2 separate regions of the Homo sapiens genome follow, and region 2 is linked to region 1. A link means that fine-mapping ties the variant in region 1 to the expression of a gene that starts in the linked region. Tissue or cell type: blood mononuclear cells. Region 1 holds a variant in brackets; the other region holds the start of a gene. All regions are shown on one strand. Distances are between the middles of the regions.

The links. PIP is the estimated chance that this variant, and not a neighbour inherited with it, causes the effect.
Region 2: RHOXF1-AS1 starts here. The variant in region 1 is fine-mapped to the expression of RHOXF1-AS1 in blood mononuclear cells (TOPMed, PIP above 0.99). The same link has a PIP of 0.9 or more in whole blood.

Annotation. Positions count from the first base shown.
Region 1 is chrX:120,085,232-120,093,339 of GRCh38, reverse strand. All of the region lies in intron 1 of RHOXF1-AS1 (RHOXF1 antisense RNA 1), which reads right to left. Among named protein-coding and RNA genes, the nearest start is that of RHOXF2B, 12 kb to the right of the region's middle. The variant T/C (reference allele first, on the strand shown) is at 4,694.
Region 2 is chrX:120,031,777-120,039,884 of GRCh38, reverse strand. RHOXF1-AS1 (RHOXF1 antisense RNA 1) reads right to left here and starts at 3,649. Exons shown (of 5, transcript NR_131238.1): 1 at 3,353-3,649.

The DNA.
Region 1 (8,108 bases):
AGAGTGAGATTCTGTCTCAAAAATATAATAAAATAAAATATAAATTTAATTTAAAAATATATTTATAGTTCCTTGTTGCATAGTGAAGTTAACACCTTTTTTAAGGCTCTTCTATGTGCTTTTTGTTCTGTGATTTGTTTTATTCTTCACTGAACGTTTGGACATTTGGTGGTATTCTTCCAATGTTTAATAACTTAAAAAATACATTTAAAATAACTAATGCTTACGTTTTTCACTACAAATATTTCCCCATTCTGTTGTTTTCCTCTTTTTCTTAGTTTTGTGGTCCATATTTTTCTTTCTGATTTTTTTATTGCTTCATAACTTTAAAAGTTATCCTTCTTCCAGAGTTGACATTATGCTTTATCAAATAATTGCACTGATGATTTTTAAATTCTATACTTCTACTTGATTTGATGTTACCTAAATTTAACTCCTTAAATCAGCTGAGATACATTGTGCTGCCTTAGTAGGAGATAGGTAGAAAGGTGAGGATAGGAATAACATCTACCTTACACCATTGCTGTGACAAGTGAAAGACGCAATGCATGCATGTCTAACACTGCGCCTGGCAGGTAAAGAGCAGGGACTCAGTAAGTGACGAAAGCTATTAATTTAATTCTTATTATCAGTATCTAAAGTTGGATATCTGTAGAAGGAACACTGAGAGGTTTGTCACATACCAATTATAGGAGTAACATAGAACTGTAAAAATTTTATAAATTAATTGAAAATGACAACTCTAAATTCATATGTACAACTGCACATGAAATACATATAATCATAGATATAACTAAACATACACAGCAATACATTTACTTCTTTTTGATACTGCGAGTGATGTCAAGGGAAAAGACATTCACATTTCAAAGTTTAGTTTTATAAAATTAAATATTTCAAGAATATCAGTTAAAATAAAACAAAAGCATAACTCAGAAGCTAAAAATGGTAAAACCTTTGGCCAGGTTTTCATTTAAGTTTCTTTAGATTTGTGAGTTTTGTTATTATTTTTAGAATTTATTTATTAAGTTGTTTTTTTATTTCCATAGGTATTTGGGGAACAGGTGGTATTTGGTTACATGAGTAAGTTGTTTAGTGGTGATCTGTGGGATTTTAGGACACCCATCAATCAAGCAGTATACACCGAACCCAATTTGTAGTCTTTTGTCCCCCACCCCACTCCCACCCTTTCCTCCGAGTCCCCAAACTCCAATGTATCATTCTTATGCCTTTGCATCCTCATAGCTTAGCTCCCACTTATGAGTAAGAACATACAATATTTGTTTTTTGTTATTGTTTAAACAGTGAGTTTCAAAAGTGTTTCACTTTATAAAAGTACACTCAGAAATATGAATATCTATTGCCTTCTTATTCCTCACACTACCTCAGGAAAGCAAATACGTCATTGCAAATATACTAATGTAAGTTATGCTCTACCCTTCTAACCAATGACATAATTCTTAATTCTGTGATTTGAAATAAAAAATTGTCTCAGCACATGCTCTCAAGAAAAGCCTTGCACAGGCCGGGCGCGGTGGCTCACGCCTGTAATCCCAGTACTTTGGGAGGCCGAGGTGGGCGGATCACGAGGTCAGGAGATCGCGACCATCCTGGCTAACACGGTGAAACCCAGTCTCTACTAAAAAAGAAAAATGCAAAAAAAATTAGCTGGGCCTGGTGGCAGGCGCCTGTAGTTCCAGCTACTTGGGAGGCTGAGGCAGGAGAATGGCGTGAACCCAGGAGGCGGAGCTTGCAGTGAGCGGAGATCAAGCCACTGCACTCCAGCCTGGGCGACTGAGCGAGACTGTGTCTCAAAAAAAAAAAACAAAACAAAACAAAAAAGAAAGAAAGAAAAGCCTTGCACAGGCTTTCGGGAAGTTGATCAGGGCTTTACATGTAATTACAGAATAGCAACTAAGCCAGGGAACCTTTTGTGGCCCCTTACAGCTGCACTCTGAAAATTCAAGTGAATAAAATTAGAGTTGAAGTTATGAATAACAAGTTTTAGCCCTGGAACAATGCCTACTGTAACATTCTAGCATTTCAATTATGATCCTACCTGAGGCTGCCAACTAGGCTGGATCTTCCATGGAAATATTTTCTGCACACTTCTTACAATCTCTCCAATTTCTGTGTCTAATCTTCGTGACACATGTTGCCAATATTATCAAAGGAGACCAATTTAGCTGACAAGTGTACAGATTTTAGGTTCCATCCAAACTTTAAGGGGGCATAGTCTTTCCTAATATGCCCTATGTTTAAGGACACTTGCTCTGAAGTCATACAACTCAATTTCTCCCATCTCTTCTCTGCCCTCCCTATTACACCATCCCTTAGTTATCTTCTTCCCTCATTCCCTCCTCCCCCTTGCCCATTCTCTTCATGCTTTCTCCTCTTCATGTCTACGTCTAGCAAGCTGATGGCTCCCAGCAATGAAGTGCAGGTGAAATTCTGACATTGTATTTTTCTCAAATAAGCCACTCAGCCAGTAGATAGCTTGTCAACACCTTTAAAGTACCTAGGTGTCTGGCACTATGGGGAAGAAAAGCTGAATGAACTAATGTTTCCATCCTCACAACCTAGTTGGAAAGATAAAGCATGTTCATGTGAAAAGATAACTAGAAAGGCCAAGCAGGGGACAGCAAAATACTTTCTAACTTAAAATATGATTCAAAGTTAGATTTAGTAAGTTCTAAGCAACTATAGCCGAAGTTAAATCCTTTCAAGATAAAGGGCACCACACTGACCTCAGAAATAAGAGTGTAACCAAGTACCCCCATTTTTCTAAGTGGTAGTTTAATTATTTTTTTCTGTTCTTTTCTCCTTTCTCCTTTCCCCCTGCTTCCTATTTAGCCCTTTTTGAAATGCAAAATAACCTCTCTCCTCCCAGTCACCAGACTTTCCCTACAGCGCAAGTTCATCCGTGTGCCCCAAGATGGAGCTCTCCTCTAGAGTTGATAGTTGAAGTGCAGATCAAAGCATGTCCCCACAGAAATCCCACCTCCAGAGGGTCACCTCAGGAGGGCATGCTTTCCATTTAGCCACTTTTACAACTTATTTCTGCCCAGAAAGGCACCAACTCAACTGTCTGGTAGATAAGAAACCAGGGTAGCAGGGAGACCCCCTGCCCTTGCTCACTTCTCTGGTCAACTTAGAAAAGATTTCACTTTTGCTACAAAGGTGAAGCATCACATTTAAAACAAGACACTTTATGCCCCTTCCCCTAGCTAGCTTCGGAAATAAATTCACTTTTCTTGTACAAGGCCTTGCTCTTGTTAATTGGACTCTAAGTCCAATTAACCTGCTTTTTGGTTACAAGAGGAGGTGGTTATAGCCCAGGATTTTACCAAGCTGAGGTCCATCCTCCAACATTGAAGTCCATAGACCCTGAGTACTGTGCTGGTCAGTCCCAGGTGGGCAGATCCTTGAGAGTCATGAAATCTTAAGACCTCTCAGAACAATCCAGCCTCACTTGAACAGGTGTGTTTGCCACACAGTGGACTGCCTCATTGAATAGTGCCTTGTGCAGAACTAAAATACTGTGGCAAAGCTGTTCCTCTAATGGCTGAATATCTGATGGTGATGTTGATGTTTTTCTCTTTTCCAGTCAGGTCCAAGGTCATATCTACGGTGGACCACTCTTACAGGCTTAGCCTGAAAACTCTATGATTACCCTATAGACCCACCGCAAACACCAAGGTCTGTAAGGTAAAAGAAAAGAGTGGGCTCCCTGGACCTTGACTGCTTTTTAGCCTCTAAAAACAAAATACATTAGCATGAGAAGGAAAATGTATATGCTAAACAAAACACTCCTCCATGTAACCATGTGGTAAGTGGCACAAAAGAAGATGCACATAATGTATCAATGAAACTCTTTTTTGTGTGTGTGTGTGATGGAGTCTCACTCTGTCGCCCAGCCTGGAGTGCAGTGGCGTGATCTCGGCTCACTGTAAACTCCACCTCCCAGGTTCACGCCATTCTCCTGCCTCAGCCTCCTGAGTAGCTGGGACTACAGGCACCTGCCACCACGCCCGGCTAATTTTTTGTACCATTAGTAGAGACGGGGTTTCACCGTGTTAGCCAGGATGGTCTCAATCTCCTGACCTCGTGATCCGCCCCCTCGGCCTCCCAAAGTGCTAGGACCACAGGCGTGAGCCACCGCGCCCGGCCCAATGAAACTCTTAAACACATGGGAAATCACATTGTTTTCTTGTATAAGTAATACTGGATGTTCTCATTGTTTTCCCTACCTTTTATCTACTGCCTTTGTGAATATAATTCTTTGGGATCATAGTAGAAATCACATACTTACTTTATTATATTATCTGAGCACTCTGTAGATCAAGTATAATAATTGATCTCTCTGTGTTTTCTGAAAGTAAAGATAGTATCTGCCAACATACAAAACAACTGATAAGATTATGCAAACATAGCTTTGGGTTTATTCTACACAGAACTTAACTTTTCTTTTGCCCTTTGTCAAAAGTACAATAAAATGTGAAAGTTATAACAAAGTTCTCAACCAGCTCAGTTCAGTTCAGTAATTCTCAACAGGACAGTCAGCTATAGGCCACAAATTTCTGTGCCTGTATCCCTTAGAAAGAAAAGGAAGAACACATTCCAAAAGAATATTCCAGTGTATGTATGGAACAGGAATTAAAAGAAATTAAAGAGTGTGCAAGCAGAAACTCAG[T/C]TGTATGTAAGAAAACCCAATTCCCCCTAAGAAAGAGAAAGAGCTGAAGTCCTTTAAAATTAACTGCCTGTTTTTCTGTGGCTAGTGAGCCTTATCTCTCCCACTTTCCCAGGCATTGTGAAGACCCTGTCTCCTTAGCTGTGCAGCTGCAAGGTCACTAGACAGAAAAACTCAAGTTGCAAAACATGTTTTTCCTTGAAAAGTAAAAAATGATATAATGCATGTCTCAATTGCCTTTGTTTCTCACTTCTGTAGTATACTTTCCTCTGCACAGATCTCCCCCGACCCACGAAATGCTTAAAAGGTAACTTAACTCTGTTCAGGGCTCAGTCCTTTGGATGTTAATCCGACTGGACCAGTGCACCTAAATAATTAATAAATATCCTCCTGAGCCCCATTGGTCTCTCTGATTCCTTAAAAATCTCGTAACATTTCTGGGAACTCGCCTGGGATTGGAGACAACAGATTTACTGTCTCATTTGCCTGGGGGACTAGAGCCCCAGGGCTGGGGAGACCCAGCATCCAAGGCACGCCACAGGGGAGCTTCACCCAGACAGAGACTGGCTCTCCCCACATCCCAGCAGACTGCCCGGCAATGCAACAGAACCAGGAACAGGGCTGCAGGACGATGCCAGCACTTCAGGAACTGTAGTAAGGAGCAAGTGCCTAAGGCAGGGAAGCCTGTCCCATAAGGATGATCACCTCCCAGGGAATGACCACTAATCCAACCCAGAGCAGCTGGGGGTGGCAGGAGAGGCTTGCTAATTTGGATGAACCTCGTGTCCCCATTAACAAAGTGAAAGTGGTTTACTGGATCTGGAGACAGGAACTGGGAGTGTGTGGGTGTGTGTGAACCCACCCAGGACATGAGAGAGGCTCGTTTCGTCTGATGAGGAGTCCTGGGCAGGGGAGGTGTGTGAAAGTGTATGAAAGAGATGGTCTTGGGAGAGGCCAATGCGGGGAGTAACGTGAGGAGGCACAGATCCCTTAGGGCAGGCTGTGTACTCCAAGGTGAGCGTGGAAGAAATCAGACCTAGGATGCCGCATACGGCCAATGGGACCAGTTTCACAGCCACAGCAGGCTGTGACAGGGGAAGGCACATTCCTGGCTAAGCAGTGTCTGAAACTCCCATAAAAGGACCTGGTCTGGTGGATCTGAGAGTGAAAGTGAGAGGGAAAGTGCACTGCAAGGGAGGAAATGGGAGGAAAAGTGTCGAAGCCAACTCCTTTGGAGTGCGTGATAAAGAATTTTAAAAAAGGATTTAGAGGTGATTATGGGATGAAACTGGATGCTCAAAAGTTAAGGACATACTGTGAAATAGATTGGCCTGCTTTCAATGTGGGGTGGCCCTCTGAAGGTACAATAGACAGAAAATTAATTGGCCGTGTGTTTAACGTGGTCACCGGAGTTGGAAGACAACCAGGATACCCAGACCAGTTTCCCTATATAGACTCTTGGCTCAGTGTAGCACAAACTCACCCCAAGTGTCTACAGCCCTGTCTAAAGAGATATTATAAGGCATTAGTGGCTCAGGCAGCCCAACCAAAGGAAGAAAGAAAAACCAGATATAGGAACAGAGATGGCTCAATTTATAGCTGCTGCACTAGCAGAAAGTAACCCTGAATTTGCTAGAGGGCGTGGCCAAGGCAGAGGTCGAGGAAGGGGGCAGACAAGACCAGGAGAGGAAAGCCAATCTTGGTTGGACAGGAACCAATGTGCAAAGTGCAGGAAAATGGGCCACTGGAAAGATGAGTGACCCAAAAAGGAAAAGGATGGAAATGATGGTCAATGGTCTAACACCCAAGTGCGTTATTCGGTTGCTAGTCATGGTGCATCAAGGGCAGATCCTGATCTGATTGGCTTAGCAGGGGCCAAGAATTTTGAGGACTGAGACAGACCAGGCTCCATCTTTTTAGGCCCCGGGGAGCCTATGGTCTCTATGGAAATAGGGGGTCAATTAATGGATTTTTTTGGTCGATACTGGTACTGATTTCTCTGTGGTAACTCACCCAATTAGCCTCCCCACAAAGAACTGTGCTACTATTGTAGGGGCTACTGGGGCCAAAAAAAAGAGACCTTTTTGCAAATCCAGGAGATGTGTTATTGGGGGACAAGAAGTGCAGCATGAGTTTCCGTATATGCCAAATTGTCCAGTGCCCTTGCTGGGGAGAGACTTACTCCAGAAACTGCAGGCAGAAATTTTCTTTACGCCTAAAGGGAATATGACACTGGAGTTTGGAAAGTCCAAGGCAATGGTATGAACTCCAACTGTCCCAAGGGCTGAGGAATGGTGGCTGTGTGAACCGTGTGCCAGAAGGTCACCAGAACCGACCTACACAATATATGGGGGATGCTTTTCAAGGTACCAGGTGTATGGGCCGAGGATAATACCCTGGACTTGCTGCAAACAGACCCCCAGTGGTAGCAGAGCTTAACCCTCATGCTGCCCCGGTATGAGTCCGTCAATACCCAGTACCCAGGGAGGCAATTGATGGAATAACAAAAGCATCTGAATCGGCTTTATACACATGGGATTATAGTAAAATGCAAGTCCTCATGGAATACTCCTCTGTTACCCATGCACAAATCAAATGGGGAATACAGGCCAGTGCAGGATCTCCGGGTGGTAAACAAGGCCACTGTCGCTATCCATGCAACAGTACCCAACCCATACACAATGTTGGGACAGATTCCTGCTGATGCCACTTGGTTCACATGTCTGGACTTAAAGGATGCCTTCTTTTGTTTGAAGCTTGCTCCCCAAAGTCAGAGGGGGCAATCGCAATATACCTGGACAAGGCTGCCGTAAGGGTTTAAGAATGCTACCATTTTTGAGGAGGCCTTGGCTACAGATCTTGAGGCTTTTGCGCCACCTAGTGACAATTATGTGCTATTACAACACATTGATGATTTCCTATTTGCCGCCCCCACGAGGGAGGAATGACTCCAAGGAACAGAGAGGCTTCTTCACGTGCTGTGTGAAGCTGGTTATAAAGTGTCCAAGGACAAGGCAAAAGTCTGTTTTCAGGAGGTTGGATATCTAGGATTCATGGTATCCCAAGGCCAGCGCAGGCTTAAGTGCACGCAAGGAGGCTGTATGTGCACTGCCCACCCCAGTTACAAGGCCAGGGAATTTCTAGGCGTGGCAGGATTCTGCCGAATCTGTATTCCAAACTTCTCCCTTACAGCAAGGCCCTTGTATGAGGCTATAAAAGGAAAGGAAAGAGAGCCCCTCCTATGGCAAAAGAAACAGGAAAAGGCCTTCAAGGATATAAAGGAAGCTCTCATCCAGGCCCCGGCACTAGGGTTGCCAAATGTAAAAAAGCCCTTTTTTTGTATGTGGATGAATGTCAAGGAATGGCAGTTGGAGTCTTAACTCAGTTCTTGGGCTCTTGGCATCGGCCGGTAGCATAC
Region 2 (8,108 bases), 53 kb after region 1:
GAAGAAACCACAGAGACTTGGCTAGTTTGCTTCCATTACGAAAAAGGTAATCTTGTTAAATAAACTTCATAAAGGAAAGTGGCTCCTTGAGGGGTACATCACTACAGACCCCCTCCTCCATAGTGCCTTGATAGTGGCCACTTTCTCTGAGGAGGAGGAGCAAGGTGGGGAGATGAGAGTGTATGTATACCAACGACCATCTCTTTCCTCAGCTGGGTACTATTTGGTCTCTGACAGATTTGGTCCACACATAATGAGTACCTAGTCACTGAAAAACATGTCTCAACCACCTTCGCAGAGACTATGGAGGTCCTGCAGCCCTCCTGGTGGTCTCTTGGGTCTACTACGAGGGAGTGGGAACGGTAGATGAGAAGATTAACCAGACTTAGATTTACGGGTTTGTTCATGCTGCTCCTGCTTGTTGTCAAGCCCAATTAAGCCACCTCCTGAGGTCAAGTCCATCAATCTGCAGTGTGATCCAGATCTTAACTCAGAAATTCTCAGGCACAGAAGAAATGGCTTCCGATAAAATAGCAAAATTTGACCCCTCCCCTCCAAAAAGGGAGCATAAAAATAGTACTTGAGTGCCCTCTTCTGGACTGTCTGGGCAAGGGCCTTCCCAAAGAGATCTCTGAGTCTGATTACTCAATAATGGAACCACGAAAGCAGATTGATGGGCTCCCCACTAAAAAATTCAGGGCCAAGTACCAGGCCATGGGGATTTGATAAGTGGTCCCGCTAGAGTCTGCACAGTGATGGCCTTCCACCTCTCCTGGTGGATTTGGAGACAAATCAGAGATCCTGAGCAACTTTTGCTCTGACACTCAGCTTTCAAATATAAACAAGATTAGGGGTTACAAACAAAAATCCAAAGATTTTAGGGGTTATAAACAAGATCCTTCTGTACTCAGGGGACCCAGAGGCCCTATGCCAAGGTTAGAGTTCAACTGAACAGTGGAGAGGAATTGCACTTCTTAGGCCTTTTAGATACCAGTACACAGGTGACTGTGATCCCCACAAACCCTTGCATCAAGATGAGGAGAAAACAGATCGTGTTCTCTGACTTTGGGCTCCTACTAACCTCCGTTGTCATGGCCCCCACTACTGAATGAAATATTGGCAGTGATGTGTTTTCCATGTGCAGCCCCACTTGCCTTTGCCTCCAAGCCCTGACAGGAATTGCAATAGTTATGGCCATCTTAGTGAGAAATATAGAAGACCATGGACCCATCTGATGACCAACACCTAGTACTGTTGTTTCCCAAAAAACAATGTCAGCTGCCTAGGGGAGAAAAAGAATAATTGCCATCATTGCTGAGCTTAAGGAAGCCAAAATGTTTCATGAGACTGTTTCTCCATTCAATAGCCCCATCTGGCCTGTGCACAAGACCTTGGTTTCTTGGAGACTTACCACTGATTTTAGGCAGCTCAATGCGTAATACCACCTTTGGCACCAGCAGTACCTGACATTGTGACTATTACAGAGGCCCAAAACAGAGAGAACTTGGTATGCAGCAATTGATATTGCAAAGGCATATCAAATTGTAGTCCCCAGTGTTGGAGATGGGGCCTGGTGAGAGGCGATTAGATCATAGGGGCAGATTTCCCCTCTAGTTTTGTTCTAATGATAGTGAGTAATCATGACATCTGGCTGTTTAAAAGTGTAGCATCGGCTGGGCATGCCCTCAGCCTCCCAAGTGTCTGGGATTACAGGCACTTGCCACCATGCCCCGCTAATTTTTGTATTTTTAGTAGAGATGGGGTTTTACCATGTTGGCCAGGTTGGTCTTGAACTCCTGACCTCGTGATCTGCCCACCTTGGCCTCCCAAAGTGCTGGGATTACAGGCATGAGCCACTGTGCCCAGCCTAGTCTCTAGCTTTTAACTGGATCTCAGCTCTGGGCAGAGCCCACGCTGAATCCTGGATCTCCAAAAGATAGAATTATCATGATTCTAGACCATGTGATGCATTTGCACTGCACTTTGTTACAAAGACTTTCCTCTAAGTGTCTAAAGTATACCTTTTCTTATCTTAAACACCCGAAGAGTAGCCTCTGTTGTAATAACTTAGTCCAAAAATCAGGTAACACAGTACAAAAGCAAGCAGTTTAAGATCTGAGAGGAACTTGTCTGTTTAGACTCTTGGGGTTCCATAAGGAAAAACAGATGTTTCTCCTCAAAAAGGACTCTAGTGCCTTCTCTGTTTTATTTAAGGAATTACAGGCTGTTAGAAACTATTTTGGGTCCCTCATGCAGCAGAGGGGAACAAGAGAAAGGAGAGATAGGCAGAAGTAAATGGAGAAAACAGAATTCATTTGACTGACTGAGAAGGAAAAAACCTTTTTCTCAAAAAACAAGGTACTAGGAGAGAAAAAAAAAACAGGCCAGGCACGGTGGCTTACGCCTGTAATCCCAGCATTTTGGGAGGCTGAGGAAGGCAGATTACCTGAGGTTGTCGGGAGTTTGAGACCAGCCTGACCAACATGGAGAAATCCCATCTCTACTAAAAATACAAAATTAACTGGGTGTGGTGTCGTATGCCTGTAATCCCAGCTATTTGGGAGGCCGAGGCAGGAGAATTGCTTGAACCCGGGAGGTAGAGGTTGCAGTGAGCCAAGATCGCACCATTGCACTCCAGCCTGGGCAACAAGAGTGAAACTCCTTCTCAAACAAACAAAACAAAACAAAAAACCATAAAGGCCTTTTAAATATACACACACACACACACATCGTGGATATTAGCTTTTAATTAAACTGACTTTTAGCCACTAAGCTCTTAAAAAATTCTTCTAAATCTCACTACCCTATTTTAGCTGGAACAAATTGCTGATATTTCAAAAATAACACAAATATCAAACCAGAAAGAACTTGATTTAGGAACCAAACCCAGGCTGTTGTGGTGGAAAAAAGGGCAAAACCTTAGCTACAGAACTGCAGTGTGGAGCACAGTTTGGCTTGGCTAGCAAAAGGTGGCCTTGTTATGTAAATAAAGCCCCTCAGGTAGTCAAAATCTTTCTTTTTTCCTGTTGATGGCTGTTTATCCTTTTCCCTTTTCCCCCCCAGCTGCAGGAATTTACCCAATGCAGAGGCGTTGTTCCTCACCATTTGTAACTTTCCTTCACATTTGATATAGTTGGGTAGAGTTAGTCAAATCCAATGGGAAAAAGACCAAAACAACAAAACAAACAAATAAATGAAAAAACAGTTTGGCAAAACAAACAAATGATCATACTATGTATACAATTCCTGAGCACTCTAATGGTAAGGAGAAATTAAGAGCTGCTGGTTGTTAATCTTAACTTTAGGTCATTAAGGAGAATTTTCAAGATAAAACCCCAATTCAGCTACTTACCTAGGAATGGAGTCCAGGCTCAACACTGCTCTCTACCAGCCTATAAGCAGGAAAAAAACTCCAACTCGCCTTCCCTGTTGGAATTGAGCTGAAACTCCAGAAAGGAGTTGCCTGCCCTCCATCATCATGGAAGCAGGAAAACTCACCTTCCTTGTTGAAAGTGAGTAAAACTCCAGAAAAGGAGTTGTACAGCAAAAAAAAACCTTAGATATCGACCAAATTTGGGGAGATCAGGGTGAGGGAAGAGACGGACCCTCTCATATTGTTTTATATTGTTTTATACTCAGTACCTGTTTTAAGAAAAAAACAAGGAAGTGAAACCAAGGGCAGGCAGCCAGGCACCAGACCCAAAACCAGAACTGAAACCAGGCCTGGGCCTGCCTGGCCTAAACCTAGTAGTTAAAAATCAACTCATGACTTAGCAACCGATGTTATCCATAGATTCCAGACATTGTATGGAAGAACGCTGTGAAACTCCCTGCTCTGTTCTGTTTCACTCTGACTACCGGTGCATGAAGCCCCTGTCACATACCCCCTAGATTGCTCAATCAATCACGACCCTTTCATGTGAAATCTTTAGTGTTATGAGCCCTTAAAAAGGACAGAAACTGTGCACTCGAGGAGCTCGGATTTTAAGACAGTAGCTTGCCGATGCTCCCAGCTGAATAAAGCCCTTCCTTCTACAACTCAGTGTCTGAAAGATTTTGTCTGCAGCTCGTCCTGCTACAAGGGATTGTCTGGAGGGGGGAAGTTCCCAGGCCTCAGCAAATCTGCCTATTGATTTGAGCAATAAAGATATCTCAAGCTGGTACCAAGCAGTAATAGAAGATTTGTCAAAGGTCAGGGGCACCTCCACTCAGAATCCCTTGGTGGTTACCAATTTGTAAACCAAAAAGTATCTGAGCTAGGTCTCAATTAACTTGGAAATTTTATTTTACCAAGGTTAAGAACATGCATCTGGAAGGCAGGTCTATGCCTTTTTCCAAAGAAGATTTTGTGGACTTCAGTATTTAAAGGCAAAAGGGCAGATATTGGGGGAAAAGGAAAAAAAATTAAAGGTGTGGGTAGATAACAGACAAATGGTTGCATTATTTTGAGTGTTTGATAAACCTTTCACTGAATACACAGTTTACATGTGAGAGAAGGGTAGAGGAATAGTTACTTATGCCTTTGTCAGCTCAGTGAATCTGCATTTTTACATTAGGAAAGCAATCAGATATGCATCTGTCTCAGATGAACAGAAGGATGACTTTGAGTTCTGTTCTTTGTCTAGAACCTGTGAAGATAAGCTATCAATTTACATTGTCAGGGTAAAATTCAACAGAACCATTTTAAGGTAAACATCTTGGGGCTCAAAAGGAATGTCCCAGTGGACAAATTGTGAGACATGTATGTAGCTTTTTTTTTTGTTTGTAGCTATCTTATTTAAGAATAAAATGGGAGGTAGGTTTGCCTGATGCAGTTCCCAGCTTGACTTTTCCCTTTGGCTTAATGATTTTGGAGTCCTGAGATTTATTTTCCTTTTACAAGACATTACCATTCCAAAAGAATGAATATGGGAGGCATAAAGTGGTTTCTTGTCCCAAGTAAGTTCAAAATTTAGCATGGCAGGGCCAGGTGTGGTGGCTCACGCCTATAATCCCAGCACTTTGTGATGCTGAGGTGAGTGGATCACTTGAGGTCAGGAGTTCGAGACCAGCCTGGGTAACATGGTGAAACCCCCCTCCTCGTCTCTACTAAAATACAAAAATTAGAGGGGCATTGTGGTGAGTTCCTGTCATCCCAGCTACTCAGGAAGCTGAGGCAGGAGAATTGCTTGAACCTGGCAGGTGGAGGTTGCAGTGAGCTGAGATTGTACCACTGCACTCCAGCCTGCGTGACAGAATGAGATTTCATCTCAAAAAAGTAAATAAATAAATAATTAGCATAGCTAATTCCATTAGATTTCAAGGCCTAGGAACAATCCTCTTTAGCTCAATGTTCTGCCATCTGGTCTTGCAGTGATCCACCAGCTTCTGTGCCACCCTCATAATTCACTCTTCCTTTTTCTTGAAGGCTAATGTGTCTTTGCAGTCTAGTAGCCCTGTCAGCTCATATCCTGCCTATAGATTTCCAGAAGTCCAACAGTCTTCCTTCATTTCATCCCATATCTATCTCCTTTACTCCAAGATGCCAGTATTTCTGTTGATATAACATTCTCAAAATCCTTATCAGTCTCGTGTGTGTTATGGGAGTCCATGTCATTAGACAAGATCCTTCCTGGATAAACCCATCTCTATTCCTGCCTTCAGCTGATATGGTTGATTGGATCCATGAATCACATATATAATCTCTTTAGCAAGATTGTCCAGCCATACTGTTGGCCTTCTCTTCAGAGTATGCTTTTGCGACAATAAATTTTCTAATTTTGGCATCCTTTGGAATCACGATAGGCTGAGAACCTCCAAAATCAAGTGCTAGTTACTTTTTGCCTAATAGTTCTTTCCTCAATTTATATCTTTCACATTGAAATGGGAGAGTTCACTGACCCCCCTTGCAGGGCCTGCAACAGGGGTGTGGCTCGTCTGTTTGGCCACTGCATGCTCAAACCCCTTATGGGAGGGGGAGCACGCATTTGAGCTAGGGCAAGCACTTTTGGGCTCTGGGCCTACAGCAATATCCAGGGATGTTACAATGCTCCTTTAGCCCTGCCATCCAGGGACAGCTTAAGTGTTAAACAGCTCAGTGCCCTCTTGGTACTGGGTTCCTGTCCAGCATCCAGGAAGAATCAGGTCACACAGACAAATTGAAGGATGGTAAATGTGGCGTATTTTATTGCTGGATGGAGGTGGCTCTCTGCAGGATGGATGGGGAGCTGGAAAGGGAATGGAGTGGGAAGATAATCTTCCCCTGGAGTTCAGTCGTCCCTTGGCTGATCTCCTCTCCTACCGTCCCCAGCCTAACTCCTCTTGATGTTCAGAAGCTCCTTCTCTTCTCTCCTTCTCTGCCACACCACTCTTCTGTTCCTCTGCTCTTCTGCTTGTCTGCTCATCTGCTTGTGGATCCTGGGGTTTGGAGTTTATACAGGTACAGGATACAGGGGCGTGGCAGGCCAAAAGGCAGCATTTGGGCACAAAAACAGGAACGCTTGTTCCCATTTAGGGCCACGGGTTTCCAGACTTGAGGGTGGGGCCTTTGCTGGGAAACCACCCTCTTCTACCCAGTATTTCCCTGTCTCCTGTCTGTATCAATATTACATTTTACTATAAGCAGCAAGGAGAAACCAGGTTATGAAGATAAGCTATCAATTTACATTGTCAGGGTAAAATTCAACAGAACCATTTTAGGGTAAAGATCTTGGGGTTCACAAAGAAAAATCTTAAGGATTTTGCCTGTAAATTTCTGCCAAATATCCAAGTTCATCACTTTCAAGTTCTGCTTTCCATGTGACTGAAGAACATAGTTCAGCCAAGTTTTCTGTCACTGTATAACAAGCATTGCCTTTCCTCCCATTTTCAGTAACATTTTCTTCATTTCTTTCCAAGACCTCTATACAATCAACTTTAATATTCCTATTTCTAACAACAGTCTCTTCAGGGCAATTTAGGTTTTTTTCTATCACGCTTCTCAAAAATTTTTCTAGTCTCTATCCATGGCCTAATTCCAAAGCCAATTCCACATTTTAGGTCTTTAGTACAGCAACATCCCACTTCTAGTTTCAAAATCTGTATTAGTCAGGGTTCTTTCAGAAAAAAAAAAAAAAAAAAACCAACAGGGTATATATGTATTTGATTTGTTTCAAGGAATTGCCTTAGATGATTGTGGGGTCCAGCTAGGTAAGTCCAAAATCTGTAGGGAACTTGGGAAGCCTAGAAACTCTCAGGTGGAAACTGAGGCTGCAGTCAGCAGGCAGAATTTCTTCTTCCTCTGGGCATATCAGTTTTGCTCTTAAGGCATTTCAACTGATTGGATGAGGCCCACCAAGATTATCCAAGACAGTCTCCTTTACTTAAAGCAACTGATTATAGATGTTAACCACATCTATATAATACCCTCACAGCAGCATCTAGATTAGTGTTTGAATAACTGGGTACCATCACCTAGCCAAGTTAACAAATTAAACTAACCATATCTATTCAACTAATTAAATATAGTAATACAACCAAATAAATGACATTTTTTTCCATGCAGTATTTCAAAATACTTAAGAGTAGGCAACATATTGGCCCAAGGTCAGTGGCTCTGAGGGTAGCTGGACCACATCAGTCAGAACTGCTATAAAATAAAATAAAATAAAATAAAATAAAAAATAAAAAAACCTTCTGGCTAACTGCACTTGCAAAAAATCAAGAGAAATCCAAGATACACAGCACCACTACAGTCTTCTAGCTTCAAATAGTTGTAATATGATTCACTCCTAGCAATAGAGTAAAAAGGTAAAGCTCAAGTTACAAGTTAATTGATATTTTCCATAGCATATACCATAAAGAAAGGTGAAAAATTCAGACCCTAATGCTGATTCTGACCAACTCTCATTTTCACCGGTTATTTTGCAGTCCCTCACTATTCAGCTGTGAAATTCATCTAAGGACATAAACTTAGTGTGTAATTTCTCCTCCGAAGGCAAAGTGGAAAGATATCAGAACTACACATTGACAGATTTAGTAATAGACTTAGTAATGTTGTTAATAGTCTTCTATATCCCTGACTGTCTGTAATAGAAATACAACTACTCGTTCTCTTTCTTCCTTTCCAGAGAAATGAGATCTGTGAAGCA